Regions from separate parts of the Homo sapiens genome. Here region 1 is linked to region 2. A link means that fine-mapping ties the variant in region 2 to the expression of a gene that starts in the linked region. Tissue or cell type: whole blood. Region 2 holds a variant in brackets; the other region holds the start of a gene. All regions are shown on one strand. Distances are from middle to middle.

Region 1 (2,690 bases), 42 kb before region 2:
TAATACAATAAAACATTTAGATTTTTGCCCATGTCAGTCATTTTGAAATTATTTTTAAAGCAAAAAAACCCTTTTTAAACAAGAAATCTTATGAGATGTCAATATGCAAAACAAATTAAAAGGAGGTGGTTTCTCTAACTGAAGCTGTTCCTCTTTCCTGCCTTCAGCCTCTGAAGAGAAAGTTAGAAAACTATTATCATTAATGCTACATGTTTTGAACAAGCTGATATACCAAGTGGCCCAGAGAGCAGGTAGAAGAACCAGCGTGGAGACAGAAAGCAAGAGGCCCGCCTGCCAGGGCTACCTGCAGAAAGAAAGGGCAAAGATGCTGTAGGCAAGAGAAGTTCAGGACAGACACTGGCATAGCTCAAAGATTCACATTTGAGCAGCTGTGGAAGATGACAGTACAATTACCAAAATGTCGAAGGGCAAAGGAGGCAGCTACTGGTTTTGATGAAAGACAATTATGTCCTTTTAAATGGGTCTTAGACATTTAGACATTAATATACACTATGCTACGGACAAAGGAATAGAAAGTAGCACTTTTTTCTCCACTAGTTTTCTTCTCTTTTTCAAGTAGATGAAGCAAAAGTCAACTGCAATAGTCAGAAAGCTGTACTTTGTTACACTTAGAAACTTCTAAAAGTGCTTAAGATTTCACCTGAAAGTCCAACATGAAGAAAATACAGGCTCCCCAATGCCCCATTCTAAGAAGGAAAAAGGACCATTTTCATTTTAGTAACGTTTCTGTTCTATAGACAGTTTGGATAACTAGCTCTTACTTTTTATCTTTAAAAACTGTTTTTCCAGTGAAGTTACGTATAATTATTTACTTCAAGCGTAAGTATACCAAATTACTTTAGAAATGCAAGACTTTTCTTATACTTCATAAAATACATTATGAAAGTGAATCTTGTTGGCTGTGTACATTTGACTATAATAATTTCAATGCATATTATTTCTATTGAGAGTAAGTTACAGTTTTTGGCAAACTGCGTTTGATGAGGGCTATCTCCTCTTCCTGTGCGTTTCTAAAACTTGTGATGCAAACGCTCCCACCCTTTCCTGGGAACACAGAAAGCCTGACTCAGGCAGCTGCCGCTATTAAAGCAGCTCCAGCCCTGCGCACTCCCTGCTGGGGTGAGCAGCACTGTAAAGATGAAGCTGGCTAACTGGTACTGGCTGAGCTCAGCTGTTCTTGCCACTTACGGTTTTTTGGTTGTGGCAAACAATGAAACAGAGGAAATTAAAGATGAAAGAGCAAAGGATGTCTGCCCAGTGAGACTAGAAAGCAGAGGGAAATGCGAAGAGGCAGGGGAGTGCCCCTACCAGGTAAGCCTGCCCCCCTTGACTATTCAGCTCCCGAAGCAATTCAGCAGGATCGAGGAGGTGTTCAAAGAAGTCCAAAACCTCAAGGAAATCGTAAATAGTCTAAAGAAATCTTGCCAAGACTGCAAGCTGCAGGCTGATGACAACGGAGACCCAGGCAGAAACGGACTGTTGTTACCCAGTACAGGAGCCCCGGGAGAGGTTGGTGATAACAGAGTTAGAGAATTAGAGAGTGAGGTTAACAAGCTGTCCTCTGAGCTAAAGAATGCCAAAGAGGAGATCAATGTACTTCATGGTCGCCTGGAGAAGCTGAATCTTGTAAATATGAACAACATAGAAAATTATGTTGACAGCAAAGTGGCAAATCTAACATTTGTTGTCAATAGTTTGGATGGCAAATGTTCAAAGTGTCCCAGCCAAGAACAAATACAGTCACGTCCAGGTATGTATAATAATGTTTTCTTATCATATGTTCATAAATGTTATACAGCTAGAGAGTATCTATAAACATTAACCTGAGTCAGTAAGTTAAATAGATGACAGATTAAGTCTTTTATTTATCAAGGTGCACAGGAAAAAATAAATATCTTCTCAAATATGACCACATAAATATGACCTAATTACAAAAATCATAGTTAGTTCTGTATCCACTGGAAGTCACTTTCAATTTTAAGATCTTATTTGTTAATGCCAGACCTACTTGCAAGCAGAAGTAGAGAGAATTTCTTGATGTTTTAGTGCATTTAACTTGTCTCTTCAATGAGGTGTTTGAAAACAATAAAGATAAGGCGATGTTCACAATTGTGCCTTGTTTGTTGGAAATCAGTTTTTCTTGTGATTGACTGACTGCCGCTTCTCATGGCTAAAGAGGTCTTTGAAAGATTTTAGCAAGTAATCTAGTTCTTAATCCCAAATATCTGGAGAAAATGGGAGAGTTTACAGATGGAATAAAAGCAGTTTCATATGTGTGCACAAATTTTTGCTTTGAGACCTAGTGGCACAAAAAATATTTTAAGGGGAGAGTTTTAGCATGCCACTAAGGGAAGGTATTCATATTTCTTTCTCTTTTACCTGAAGTTAGAATTCAAGCAGATAGAAGTAGAACCCATCCTCACCATCCAAATTACTTGAATTAACTTTAATAAATACATGTGAAATTCCACAGACTTAATCGCCTACTCCACCCACGAACTAACAGTGGTATTGACTCTCCAAACCTTGGCTTTTCACCTGAGTCACTGGGACCACTGTTGCTGACTGTCTCATACTTTGGAAAGCCATCTCCGCATTTGGACCTCTACTTACCATGAACGTGAGGTTGAAAGGACAGGGCGGAGATCACTTTCATTTAGAGACAGTAT
Region 2 (2,690 bases):
TGTAATCCCAGTACTTTGTGGTGTGGAGGTGGGCGGATCACGAGGTCAGAAGTTAGAGACCAGCCTGGCCAACATGGTGAAACCCCGTCTCTACTAAAAATACAAAAATTAGCCGGGCATGGTGGTGGGCGCCTGTAATCCCAGCTACTCAGGAGGCTGAGGCAGGAGAATCGTTTGAACCTGGAAGGCAGAGGTTGCAGTGAGCCGAGATAGCGCCACTGCACTCCAGCCTGGGCAACAGAGTGAAACTCTGTCTCAAAACAAAAAACAAAAAAAAACAATAAATATCCAAAGACAGTTAATATATAGGATTGCAAAGCCCATTGTATTAATAGTTCCATATTGCAGGCAATATGATTGACAGCTGTAAATAAAATAATAGAATAAAGTATATTCTCAGGCTACGGTGATATGAACAGAGAATGTTTAATATAACACCTTAAATTCCTGGCATAGGAAGAACTACATAGCCATCAGGTATGGTAATTCTAGAGACTTATATCTCCAGAATGCCTAAATCAATTAAATAAATATTTATTGAGTTTTCCTATAAAGAATTTACAAATATGCAAACAATGTATAATCTGAAGAGAAAGTAAGGCAGGGAAAGAACTAGTTCTCTGTCACATAAGCTGAGGTAAAATAAGCCCAAATAAAAAGCAACGTTCTTAGGAGAGTAGATAGGGCTGAAAAAGTAACTGGTAGCCTGGAATTTGGGACTTGAACTCTAGGCATTGGGAGCCATGGCAGAGTTGTAAAGATATTGCTGACAATATTGCTGAGAAGAATGGCTTGGAAAATGTGTGAATTTAGAGGCAAGGAAACAATCTGGAGGCTGGGACCCAGCCACTGTGCTATGGGTAGGAGATAGGTACCATGGTGAGCAAGACCAGACAAGGTTCCTGACCTTAGGGGACGCAGAGACTGGCAGCAAGACAAGTTAATCAAAAAATCACAGACATAAAATTCTAAACGTTTTAACTGAAATTGGTGCTATGATAACTTGGACCACAGAAACAGGGTGGCCACACACTGCACACTTACAGGGAGCACCACTGGCATAGCAAGTTCTGCAGAGAAGCAGCCCCCACTGGAAGGAGGCAAGGCAGTACCATGAGATGCTGTAGGAGTCTGAAGAGAAGAGGATGTGGCCTTAAGGGGAT[T/A]TTAAGAAAGCAGAAGACATGAATAAGCCAAAATAGGAAGCTTCACAAAGAATAATTAAGCAATAAACATTGCAGGGTACCCCTTGTTTTGTAATACACATCAGTAATTCCTCTTCTTCAAATGAAACATAGGTGATCATCATTTTGTTTTGATTTTGAATTATTAAGGAAACATTTCTAGATAGTTACAAGGAGCATGTGTAAAAACCAAATACTGCATGCTCCAGAGAATGGGGCAGGATACACAAACAATGTGACTTTTGGACAATAAAATGGCAATGCTTCAAGAAAGCTGTAGCAGAAAACCACACGGTCTTTCAATATTACTCATCATTGAACAAGCACAGGTTTTGCTCATTTTAGAAACAGCAGGGTGTAATGTAAAGTTGAACATGATTTATTTCTCTCCTAGTCCCACACAGAACCTGAGTGTTCTTTTTTGTGACTTGGCTCTTCTGACTGCCCTGAAGATAAGATTGGGTGCTCCTTCCCCCAGCAGCCCATTGCTCTACAAGGTTAATTACAACATGTTTCTACAGGAACTCAGAGCTGACCCCTTGGAGGAAGGGAGAACTCTGGGACACTTCCATTTTTTTGTTTTGTTTTGTTTTAGTTTCCTAACATGTTAAAAAACATAGAAACTTCAAAACAGGGTTACAAAAATTGTGGTATAAAGTTGTATGACAAGTGCCTTCAATTCTGTCAGTGTATCTCTGGTAATTATATGTATATTATCTTTTGGAGATAACATAAAAAGTCTATAAAATTTAAGGCTCATCCTATGGGGCCTCCGGTCCACTATATGACAGGCTCAGAATATTGGGCAGCCAATCTGACATGAGGCATACCTCAGATCCATTTAATGGACAACAACAACAACAAAATCAGATGGAACTAACTTAATAGTCCTAAAAGCCACAGATAAAATGATTGCAGTTATTCCTGCCTAGATTTTATATTCTAAGTACAATTATACAATGCTCATTTTTACCATACAAAGACAATGTTAGACTTGAAACATTTTTTAAGATATAGATACATATTTTATTTTATTTATTTTTATTTTTGTGGGTACATAGTAGGTATATATATTTATGGAGATGCTTTTTTTAAAAAAGAAAGTAAAAATGTTATTCAAAGACCCAACAAATCAAATCACAACATTTTTTTTTTTCCTAAAAGGAATGATAAAGAGGACTTTCGAAAAAAGAATCCTGAAAAGAAAAGAGTCCTACAGGAAAAACAAAAAGAATCTTAAAGGAAAAATGAAAACTCTTGCAGTAAATATGTACAGATAAAAATTGCCTCATAATTGAAGTGTTAAAGTAACAATGGGGTTTGAACTACCTTCAATTAAAACCACACAAACGCACAAATAGCAAAACTCTGAAAGAAAGCTTCAAGTGCATATCTGGCCTTTAAAGTTAATGTTCAGACATGTTAAACAGTTACCTCTTAGATTATACGCATGTGTAATCCATGAGGAATCTGTTAATTGCAACATGATGGTGGAGAACCCAAGTCTCT

The links. PIP is the estimated chance that this variant, and not a neighbour inherited with it, causes the effect.
Region 1: FGL2 starts here. The variant in region 2 is fine-mapped to the expression of FGL2 in whole blood (TOPMed, PIP 0.99).

The regions. Positions count from the first base shown.
Region 1 is chr7:77,198,262-77,200,951 of GRCh38, reverse strand. FGL2 (fibrinogen like 2) reads left to right here and starts at 1,133. Exons shown (of 2, transcript NM_006682.3): 1 at 1,133-1,771. The coding sequence starts at 1,159. The region is part of intron 2 of CCDC146 (coiled-coil domain containing 146); the gene reads right to left. RefSeq lists a silencer at 1,433-1,542.
Region 2 is chr7:77,156,105-77,158,794 of GRCh38, reverse strand. All of the region lies in intron 1 of CCDC146 (coiled-coil domain containing 146), which reads right to left. The region is part of intron 1 of LOC124901678 (a long non-coding RNA gene); the gene reads left to right. Among named protein-coding and RNA genes, the nearest start is that of CCDC146, 35 kb to the right of the region's middle. The variant T/A (reference allele first, on the strand shown) is at 1,164.